Linked DNA regions of Homo sapiens. The protein of the gene in region 1 purifies or fractionates together with the protein of each later gene. This does not show direct contact. Each region holds a gene or a part of one and is shown on either strand. Other genes may lie near its edges. The genes, in order: CRHBP, COA7 and CCNB2.

Evidence for each region.
Region 2: the proteins of CRHBP (region 1) and COA7 purify together in Homo sapiens (affinity purification with mass spectrometry; 4 studies listed by BioGRID and IntAct, with this or other methods). This does not show direct contact.
Region 3: the proteins of CRHBP (region 1) and CCNB2 purify together in Homo sapiens (affinity purification with mass spectrometry; 4 studies listed by BioGRID and IntAct, with this or other methods). This does not show direct contact.

Annotation. Positions count from the first base shown.
Region 1 is NC_000005.10:76,951,208-76,954,955, forward strand, and holds the start of CRHBP (corticotropin-releasing factor-binding protein), read left to right. Parts: upstream 1-1,837; 5' UTR 1,838-1,927; coding exon 1,928-2,008; intron 2,009-2,393; coding exon 2,394-2,487; exon of another isoform or gene 2,488-2,533; intron 2,534-2,821; coding exon 2,822-2,979; intron 2,980-3,748. UniProt on the Homo sapiens protein: Binds CRF and inactivates it. May prevent inappropriate pituitary-adrenal stimulation in pregnancy.
Region 2 is NC_000001.11:52,696,859-52,700,606, reverse strand, and holds the start of COA7 (cytochrome c oxidase assembly factor 7), read left to right. Parts: upstream 1-2,259; 5' UTR 2,260-2,280; coding exon 2,281-2,386; intron 2,387-3,748. UniProt on the Homo sapiens protein: Required for assembly of mitochondrial respiratory chain complex I and complex IV.
Region 3 is NC_000015.10:59,103,319-59,107,066, forward strand, and holds the start of CCNB2 (G2/mitotic-specific cyclin-B2), read left to right. Parts: upstream 1-1,827; 5' UTR 1,828-1,950; coding exon 1,951-1,974; intron 1,975-3,748. UniProt on the Homo sapiens protein: Essential for the control of the cell cycle at the G2/M (mitosis) transition.

The DNA.
Region 1 (3,748 bases):
TTAGTGCTCATTCATCCCAGCTCTTGCTGTGTGTGGTTCCTGAGGAGTGGGCATCATGACAGCAGGGTGGGAACATCACTGTTGTCTGTGCACGTGCATGCGTGCATGTGTGTGTGCACATGTGCACATGTGCATATGCTTGTAAAGGGGCTGGCTGGAGAAGAATGTCTCCTTGGTGATGCTAACAAAGCAACATTGAGCTGGAGTGACATCAGGTGCCAGACCCCCTAAGAGGTAAAGGCAGAGGTCTCCAAGGTGGGTGCTGGACTGAATTCTGGGAACAGGCCAAGGGCTGTGGCTACATCAATGGGAAAGAGAAGAGGGCCTGTGGCATGCCTGGTGAGTGGGCCTAAGGCTCCCTCTAGGCACAAAAAGGGTGGGAGATAGAGCTGAAGATGGCCTGGCATGTTTGAGGCCAGCAAGTTGGGGTTAAGTTGTTTGTTTTTCTCCTCTTTTATTCCTCCCAGGTTTCTTTATAACCTTTTCAAAATTCAGGCATCTAAACAGCCCTTGGGATGAGAAGGACATGGTGGCCAGTGTCCATGAGCTTTAGGTACTCTTTTCCCTCTCACTGTCTGTGGTCTGAGGACTGCTTACAAAGTTGGACTGTGGCACGAAGGCCTCCTGATTAAACCAACAAAGAGGCCGCCTCTCCAGAGCTCAGAATTGTCCTGACATGAAAATAATCAAGTTCTGACACTGCCAGGATAATTACTGTTTAATTTCGAGTATTTTAAAACTGAAAATATAGCCATTCCTTCCTTTATAACTCTGTATTATGGTCTATTTGTAATAATTGTAATAACAATGCTTGGTGCAGAGACTGGAAAGGGGTAGGAAAGCCAATAGTGGAGCATCCTCATGTTTCCCACAGTTTTGGACACAAAGAAGAAATTCTCTTCTCTCCTGATAAGCAGAGATAAGCTTATACTTATTTCCGGATCCCTAAGTCATCTTTTTAGCCCTGCAAATTTGCTGGTGAGCAGTTACAATAAAGCTTCCTGGCAGTTCCTTCTACCAGAGTGTTAAAGTAATCCAGGTATTTGAAGGCACGAAATGGAATGACTTAATCTCATCTCTCAGTGGTTCAGATGGATGCGAAGGTCATGGCTACAGCTACCTGGTCTAGGAGTGTGTACATCATGTAAACATCCAGGTCAAGTGACAGAGCTCAGCTAAAATCCAGAAGTCCCCTGACACCAGAGTTAGTTTTCCATGAAAGAAATGCCTATAAGAAACTGGACCAGGATAAAGCAAAGAGTAAGGGGCAGGAAGAAAGCTTATAATTGCATTACTGCAATCTTCTGCAAAATCAGACTTCTGCTTCTGTTCCACCTCTTTAAAGCTGAAAATGCCTCAAGTTTCTTACTGAGAGACATGAGAAATTCCATGAATACTAAATTCTTTGACAATTTCTAGCATGGTTTCATCCAAGGTTATGTGATGAGGCTGCATAATATAGGCTCTATATGTTTGGGTATTTTATGCGTGTATGTAACTTTGTCACTTTGATTTGCAAAATGGAAAATTCCCTGAATGCCCACAGAAAAGTATAATGTAGCATTTAGCAGGTCAACAAAATGCACTCCCTTATTCTTTGTCTCCGCCTCATTCTCCAACACTTTAGTGCACTAAGTTGTAGTGACTGAAATCATTCTTGGTGAATAATGCTGGGCCACGCTGAAAATTTGTGGCTGAGAGCTGGACCCTCGTCATCGCCACGTACTCTGTCAATGAGACAGGGTAACCCATGGTTACTGAGCTCCGATCAGTTAAGGGGCAGAGAGCCTCCGCTCCCCACTGCTCTATAAAAGAGACCCAGCAAAGGGACCCTACCAGCTTCTAGCTCTCAGTCTGCGCGAGGGTGTAGGAAGGAAAGCCCAGGACCTCCGGAGCAGAGCACAGCAGCTGCAGAGGCAAGGCCAGCATGTCGCCCAACTTCAAACTTCAGTGTCACTTCATTCTCATCTTCCTGACGGCTCTAAGAGGGGAAAGCCGGTACCTAGAGGTGAGCCACCCCTGGACTGACCCATCTCACCTTCCTTGCGTGTTAGCCCTAGGCGGCAGGCAGGCTGCCTCTGCTCGCAGCCTTTTGGGGTTCGCTGTTTCTTCCCTCTCTGCTGGATGCTGTCTTGCCCCTGGTTTCCCCTATCCTGTTCTCCCTCCTTGCCTCTGAGCATCCCAGACTGCCTGCCTGCCTTCCTCTGGCCGCTGGGGATACCCTGGCCTGATGGAGAGGGTCTAAGACCTTCCCGTCTTCTCCGGACACGGGAAAACATTACCCCTCTCTCTTTATTCGCTATGCTGAGTGGCAGGGAGGGTGCCCCGCTCCTGGTCCCCTTTTTTATCCCCAGCCCTTGAACTTTTCCGGACTGACCTATGTTTCTTGCCAGCTGAGGGAAGCGGCGGACTACGATCCTTTCCTGCTCTTCAGCGCCAACCTGAAGCGGGAGCTGGCTGGGGAGCAGCCGTACCGCCGCGCTCTGCGTGAGTCGAGGCTGCCCGGCTCGCGGGCGCCCGGGACGCGGGGAAGGTGGGACTCTGTGCGGGGGGCAGAGGGCTCGCGGACATCTCGGGGAAGGGGCTGGCCGGAACCGCCAGGGGCGCGGTCCCCTTAGCTAAGGATCGGTCCGCGGAGGCGCGCCAGGAGCGGGAGAGGGTGGCGCGCCCGGGGCGCAGGAACCCAGCGCAGCCTAGGCTGGAAGTCGGGGCGCTGGGCACTACAGAGCCCGGGAATGGGGCGCGCGGAGAGCGGCCGCCCGAGGACGGCGCTGCGGCGGCTGCAGCCCGGGACTTATTGCCCCATGCCCTCCTCCCCCAGGGTGCCTGGACATGCTGAGCCTCCAGGGCCAGTTCACCTTCACCGCCGACCGGCCGCAGCTGCACTGCGCAGCCTTCTTCATCAGCGAGCCCGAGGAGTTCATTACCATCCACTACGACCAGGTCTCCATCGACTGTCAGGGCGGCGACTTCCTGAAGGTGAGGCGCCCACGGCCAGCCAACCTAGCCGGAGGGCGGCACGGGAGGGTTGGAAAGGGCTGGGGCGCTGCACCCAGCGTGGGGCTGCTGAGCGTAGGTAGCCAGTGGCACTTCTTAGACACTTCGCTGGTGCCCGAGTCGGAGAGGCGCGTTCGAGGACCCCCACACGGCGAGAATCTCGCCCTTACCCGAAGACCTCGACCCACACACATCCAGTGGGGCTGGGGCCGGTGCCTCTGGACGCTGCCATGGTTTAAATTCCCTTCTGGGCGCTTTCGAGGCCCTAGGAACTTCTAAAGACTTGAACTCGCAGCGCGGAACTCTGACGCAATCCAGGGCCGAGGAAAAATGATTAAAACCCAACAAGCTCGAGTGCTGGGGTCCACCAAGCGGGCCGTCTTGGTTAGAAGGCCCGCCCCACACGTCTCACATCTGAGCCCGCCTCGCTCCTGCTGGTCCACGCTCGGCAGAGCCGTTCCGAGAGCACAGAGGCTGTCTTCAGTGCGCGGGTGACCCGATTTTGGAGCAGTAGGGGACTGGCTGCCGAGGGGGCATCTAGATTGAGATAGGTGGGAGGGCAGGACAAGACCCCTAAGCTCACTGCCTCCTCGATTCCAGTCGTCAGACTCCATAAGTATAACAGGGCAGCATGGGATGGCTGATGGAGCTCTACTGTCCAATTAAAATAATCATGATTAACATCTCCAAAGTAGGATTATTTTGGAACCTGTCACATGCGTTAGAAATAATTTGTAGCTGGGTTGTTGGT
Region 2 (3,748 bases), on another chromosome or scaffold:
ACCAAAATGGGAGCATCTAAATCTAATTTGAATGTGTGTAATTGTTGTGTCTGGGAAGACTTTACATAGGAGAGTATTTCCGATTTGTGTCAAAAAGGGTGGTCCAGGCATCAAGAGCAGAGGTAAACAGGGACACAAACTTGGGATCTATTCAGAGAACAGAAGGTTGGTGGGATGTGGGGGAAGAGAGGCAGAAAATAAGGCTAGAATCAGATTGCACAGGGTCTTGAAGGCCATCCTAAAGAAGATGACCTCAAACCAAAGTTCAAGGATTCCCATCCTGGGCCATGTGTACTGAGGAGTCCCCTAAGGTGATCAGGGTATAAGAAACCACAGGTAAATGTGGTATATTGCCTGGAATGTCAATTTTACTCAAAGGCTTGGGGGAGAAAAGGCAATCTTCTGTTATCCTATGAAAGATGTATTATGGGGAAATGAATGTAAAATCCTATGAATTTAAAAAATAAAACTGGGATTTCAGACATTATTGGCTGCCTTCCAATAAATAAGTGGTTGGAAATAGTCCATTCTTTGCTGCCATTGGGGATAGCTTAATAATGGAGCCATTTGGAAAGCATTGTTATAGGCGATGGGAAGCCATGGATTTAGCTCCATTGAGAATTCAAAAGTAGGGCTGGATGGAATTCAAAGATGAATGGGAAGTCAGCCGGGTGTGGTGGCTCACGCCTGTAATCCCAGCACTTTGGGAGGCCGAGGCCAGCGGACCACCTGAGGTCAGGAGTTCAAGACCAGCCTGGCCAATATAGTGAAACCCTGTCTCTACTAAAAATACAAAAAAAATTAGCCGGGCGTGGTGGTGGGCACCTGTAAGCCCAGCTACTCGGGAGGCTGAGGCAAGAGAATCGCTTGAACCTGGGAGGCGGAGGTTGCAGTAAGCTGAGACCGCGCTATTGCACTTCAGCCTGGGCAACAAGAACGAAACTCCGTCTCAAAAAAAAAAAAAAAAAAGACGAATAGGAAGTGGCTGTCTTAGGAGAACTTTCCATCTAAGCTTTATGGAACTGATGATTCTTAGCAGGAACAGGAGCAGGAAAACAAAGCAAAATGTAGGTAAATTTCCTCTCCTCCTCCCCATCTCCTTGACATGTTCCTTTTCTACCTCATTCATTCTTTTTCGCTCTTGTCGCCCAGGCTGGAATGCAATGGCACAATTTCGGCTCACTGCAACCTCCACCTCCCAGGTTAAAGCAATTCTCCTGCCTGAGCCTCCCAAAGAGCTAGGATTACAGGTGTGCTCCCTGTAATTTTGTATTTTTAGTAGAGACCCCTGCTAATTTTGTATTGTTAGTAGAGACAGAGTTTCACCAGGTTGGCCAGGCTGGTCTCGAACTCTTGACCTCAGGTGATCCACCCACCTCGGCCTCCCAAAGTGCTGGGATTACAGGCGTGAACCACCGCGCCCGGCCTCATTCATTCTTTTATTTTTTTAAAAAAAATTATTATTGCATACCAACTCCCTCACTTACTGTGTGACCTTGGACAAACTACTTAATTTCTCTGTACTTTAGTTTTCTTATCTGTAGAATGGGGATAATAATAATACCTACCCACAGTGTCACTGTGAGTGTTTTTACAGTGACATGATATATAATGAGAATTAAATGAGTTAATTCATATAAAGCATTTAGAGCCTGGAACAAAGTTCAGCACTGTTTGAGTACTAGGTGTTATAACAGTGACGTTGCTACACCCTTCACTGCTACTGTGTGCCAGTCAACATCTCCCATAGCCATTCATTGCTTAGGTAATTCATGTTGGTGGCCAAGACAGGTCTGGGAAGAAGACAGATGAATCAGACTGCTCACTGCACTTTGTCCAGCTACACCTGGCACATATAGAAGCTCCTCTAAATGCTTGCTGAATGGATAAGCGAATGTCTTCCTATTGAACTCCAAGTTCTTTGAAGGCAGGGACCATATTCCTAGCTGTCATATCCCTAGAACAATGCACTGGTGAGGCACACAGTAGGCGCTTAGGGATTATACATAGATAAATGACTGCAGGTGGAAAATCACTAAGGCTACAAAGCGAGCATAGGTAAGGTGCTGCAGAGAGACAGCCCCCAGTTTCAGGAAGGCGGTAGCCCTGGAAGCGTGGCTGCCAGCGCCCTTAACGGCGCGATGGCTGCTGGGAAGCACAGGCTCGCTTGGCTCGCCCCGGGATCCCGGGAGAGCGCCGCGGTTGGCGTCGGCGTCAGCCCCACGCCCCGCCCCGCCCCCTCCGCCGGCTCACGTGACCGTCTTTGGGCCGGCGCGAACCATGGCCGGCATGGTGGACTTCCAGGATGAGGAGCAGGTCAAGTCCTTTTTGGAGAACATGGAGGTGGAGTGCAACTACCACTGCTACCACGAGAAGGACCCGGACGGTGAGCGGCTCCAGCGCAGCCCGGCGACGCGTCGGGGAGGGACGTGCCCGGAGAGGTCTGGTCTGCGACCTCTGAGAGGCTGGAGAAGGAATCACGTGGCGGGCGGGGGACGGGGTCTGTGGATCGCGGTGACCGCGTGTGTTGGGAAGGGCGATGTGTCCCGGGAAGACCGAGCCAGGAGGCCGGGGCGGGTAGGAAGAGACGTGCTGGGGCTTTTGGGTTAGGGACTGGGGATCCATCGGTGAACAGATGAAACTCCCTGCCCTCGTGGAGCTTCCAAGCTAGTGCGGGGAGTCGGGCAATAAGCCTCAGGTAATTCATGAAATCGTGTTCGAAAGTAGTAAGTACCGGCCGGGAGCCGTGGCTCACGCCTATAATCCCAGCACTTTGGGAGGCTGAGGCGGGTGGATCACGAGGTCAGGAGATCGAAACCATCCTGGCTAACACGGTGAAACCCTGTCTCTACTAAAAATACAAAAAATTAGCCGGGCGTGGTGGCAGGCGCCTGTATTCCCAGCTACTCGGGAGGCTGAGGCAGGAGAGTGGTGTGAACCCGGGAGGCGGAGCTTGCAGTGAGCAGAGATCGCGCCACTGCACTCCAGCCTGGGCGACAGAGCGAGACTCCGTCTCAAAAAAAATAAATAAAAAGAAAGTAGTAAGTGCCGTGGAAAAAAGACTGGGTGAAGGGTGTCAGGAGGGCAGGAGGGCAGTTTTAAATTGAGTGATCAGGGAAGATCACTGAGAAAGTGGCAATTGAATAAAGCCTTGAAGAAGGTAAGGGAGTGAACCATGCAGTTCTTACCATAGGTAACAGCTGGCGAAGACGCCCTGAATCACAAATGTGTCCTGTGTGTTGTGTGAACATTGAATTGACTTAAGAGTATAGGTGGATGGTGGTGACCAGAGGGGTCCACCCAGAGCAGCTAATACCTTTGGGTGGTTTTCTTCTTCTTGCTTTATTTTTATTTTTTGTATTTTCTTTCTTTTTTGAGATAGTATGTCACTACGTTGTCCAGGCTGGTCGCAACTCCTGGGCTCAAGTGATCCTCCCGCCTTTGATTACAGGCATGAACCACTGCACACTGCCTACTTTTTAATTTTTTTGTTTTTTTGAGACTGAGTCTCACTCTGTCACCCAGGCTGGAGTACAATGGCTCGATCTCAGCTCACTGCAACCTTTGCCTCCTGGGTTAAAGCAATTCTCCTGCCTCAGCCTCCCGAGTAGCTGGGATTACAGGCACCCACCACCAGGCCTGGCTAATTTTTGTATTTTCGTAGAGACAGGGTTTCACCATGTTGGCCAGGCTGGTCTCGAACTCCTGACCTCAAGCAATCCATCTGCCTTGGCCTCCCAAAGTGCTG
Region 3 (3,748 bases), on another chromosome or scaffold:
TTTGCCTTTGTATATTCACAGCTTAGCTCCCACTTACAAGTGAAAACATACGGTTTTTGGTTTTCCACTCCTGAGTTACTTCACTTAGAATAATGGCCTCTAGCTCCATCCAGGTTGCTGCAAAAGACATTATTTTGTTCCTTTTTATTGCTGAGTAGTATTCCATGGTGTATATATACCACATTTTCTGTACCCACTCGGTCGATGGGCACTTAGGTTGGCAATTGTGAATTGTGCTGCTGTAAACATACATGTGCAAGTGTCTTCTTCATATAATGACTTCTTTTCCTTTGGGTAGATACCCAGTAGTGGAATTGCTGGACCAAATGGTAGAACTACTTTTTGTTCTTTAAGGAATCACCATACTTTTTTCCATAGAAGTTGTACATTCCTACCAGCAGTGTTTAAGCATTCCCTTTTCCCCACATCCACGCCTACACTGTTTTTTGACTATTGTTTTTTGAGGTTTTTTTTCTTTTTTAGACAGGGTTTCAATGTGTTGCCCAGGCTGGAGTACTGTGGCACAATCATGGCTCACTGCAGCCTCAGACTCATGGGATCAAGGGATCCTCCTGCCCCAACACACGGCCCCCCGCCCCCCGCCCCCCGCCCCCCTCCCAGTACCTGGGACTACAGGTGCTCACCACTACACCCGGCTAATATTTGTATTTTTGTAGAGACGGGGTTTTGCCATGTTGCCCAGGCTGGTCTTGAACACCTGGGCTCAAATGATCTGCCCAACAGGCCTCCCAAAGTGCTGGGATTACAGGTGTGAGCCACTGCGCCCGGCCTTTTTTTCTGACTTTTTAATGATGGCCATTCTTGCAGGAGTAAGGTGGTATCTCCTTGTGGTATTAACTTGCATTTCTTCGATGATCAGTGATGTTGAGCATTTTTTCATGTATTTGTTGGCCATTTGAATATCTTTTGAGAAATATCTATTCATGTCCTTTGCCCATTTTTTGATGGCATTATTTTCTTTCTTGCTGATTTGAGTTCCTTCTAGATTCTGGACACTAGGCCTTTTTCCGATGCATAGTTTGCAAATATTTTCTCTTAATCTGTGGTTGTCTATTATTTCTTTTGATGTGCAGAAGCTTTTTAGTTTAATTAGGTCCCATTTATGTATTTTTGTTTTTGTTGCATTTGCTTTTGGGGTCTTAGACATGAATTCTTTGCTTGGGCTGATTATTAGACGAACATTTATTGAGCACCAACCATATACGACAAACGATGTACTAGGTGTTGGGAATACAATGGAGAACTTACATGAATCACCAGTCACACAAATCTCTTTTATCTTTTTTTTTTTTTTTTTGCCTTACTTGAGAATTTGGGTTTTTGAGTAAACGCCATTATTCTCTCTTTTTTTAAGCACACTTTTGCATCTCAACCACCTAACACACTGCATCCCTGAGCAACCCGGAGGGGCCGGTTCCTGCACCCAGGCCAACACAACTTAAACCCCAACACACCAGAAGAGGAATAAAGGCCAACCAACTTCCGCCCACCCACTACAAACGTCGAGAGAAATTCGTAGATGAGGCCTTGTCAAAATTCAGAGGCGTCCTACGTCTGCTTTCCCAATGAGACAGTTCCTTTTTGTTTGTCTCAGAGACTGGGGTTTTTTTTTTTTTAAAAGACTGTAGGCAGAAAAAACACCCCAACCGGCTGTTGTGACAATCAAACGTGTCTAAGAAAATTCAGCCAATGAGAGTGCGAGAGTGCATCTTGTGTTGGCCAATGAGAACAGCGACCCGTGCGCAGGGCCGCCCAATGGGGCGCAAGCGACGCGGTATTTGAATCCTGGAACAAGGCTACAGCGTCGAAGATCCCCAGCGCTGCGGGCTCGGAGAGCAGTCCTAACGGCGCCTCGTACGCTAGTGTCCTCCCTTTTCAGTCCGCGTCCCTCCCTGGGCCGGGCTGGCACTCTTGCCTTCCCCGTCCCTCATGGCGCTGCTCCGACGCCCGACGGTGAGTGTGCCCGGGGACCGCTCTCAGAGGCGAGTCCGTCGGCCCCACAGCTCCCCTGTCGCTTCTCTCATCTGCTCCGAGCTTCTCCGTCCCAACCGGGGCTGCTTTTCTCTTCTCCGGAGCTCACTGCTTCGCCCGCGTCCCTGGCCCTGCGGCCGGTCCTCTCCGGCCCGCCTTTCCCCGTCTGGATTCCGCCCTCCCCTAACCCCTCCCTGCCCCGGGGTGGGAGAAGTGTAGGAAAGCGCTTCCGAGATGGCGCCTGTCAAGTGAGCCCCCAGAGCACTAGGCCTAGTACTCAGCGAGCGATCCCCGAGTGCTCTTCATTGCTAGAGAGTTATCTACTTCCACGTTCCTGGGATTTCCCTCCCCCTTTCTTACAACTCCTTGCCAACTAAGGGACCTGTGATGGCGGCTGGGAGGAGGACTGGAAGGGTTCTGTAGGCAGTAAAGTGTACGGCGTGTTTCATCAGGCAACTGCCAGGCTGTTTTTCAGATTGTTCACATTTCTTTTTGTATGAGTTTCCCATTTATTTCGGCACGCTAAGTCTTCCATGCTACGTTCACTAATAAATGGGTTTGTCCCCTTAAAAAATTAATTTCTTTACTCAAATGTAACAGAGGTTTTTGAATATAATTTGGACCAATGTGGCAGACTGAGAGAAAAGGGTCCAAATTCATTTATTTCATCCTTGCAGAGATCAAAGTGTTATGGTGTTTTGGGTATTTTTCCTGTGGGCTTGAATTGTACCGGGACCTACTTTTTTCCTTTGCCGAAAGCTAGAGGGCCCTGACACACCTGAGTTCCATCATCTTGGCTATAAGGTTAGATAAAAGCTGCCAATTTTCCTATCCAGATGAATTTAAATTGAGTCACATTACCAGGCTTCTACCCATAAGCATTACATTTTCAAACACTTTTTCAGATTGGCAGTTGCTGCTGGAAGAAATTGAAGTGTGACTTTTGAGAATCCTAATAGATTGAATACATTTAGCATTTAATTAATATCCTTTTGTGGATCTAAGTCCAACTGACAAGTAATTTTTTATAATAATGTATTCTATAACGTTATTTAATAGTCAAAACCTTTCTGTTCAGGGAAGGCTTGAGTTTCCCTGGCCCCTCTCTCTGCCTGGTAGATCCACTCAAACCCCTTGTTGGGAGTTTTATTAGAGTCGGGACCCTGAACTCTCAGGGATAGGACATGCTGGTTTTTTGCTTTTTTCTTTTTTAATGAAATGTTTATCACTTCTATAATAAACTTTTTTTGGTATGAGTTGCTTTTCCTAGCAAGTTTTATTTCCAAGCACATTATGTCTAAAGCAGGTTAAGGTCAACTGACAATTTTTATTTCATACAATTCCAACCTTCCCTGAGTTTGGGAGCTAAAACTATATTACTCAAGAAAACTACTTCCATTCTAAATGTCCTTAATATAAGAGAAAATCCATTCTATGGCAACCTCATTTTAAAAAGCTGTAGTTCTAAAAGATCATGCATACAGGAGCATTTCTTATTTGTGAAATGGCATAAGAATCAAAGCTAGTTTAGGTTTTAAACATCTGGTTTTTAAACAACCAGACCTATTATTAACTATTAATATTATAGCTTTATTATTTTTCATCTTAATTTACTTTTTACCAAGCTCTGTAAAGGAAGGTTTTTAAATATATGCCTTTAACTTGCAGGGATCTCTAACAAGTGATATGGGTACTATATGAGAAATAATCATTAAATACTAATAAGCTTTGAAGTTCTCTTACAGGCCCACTTGAA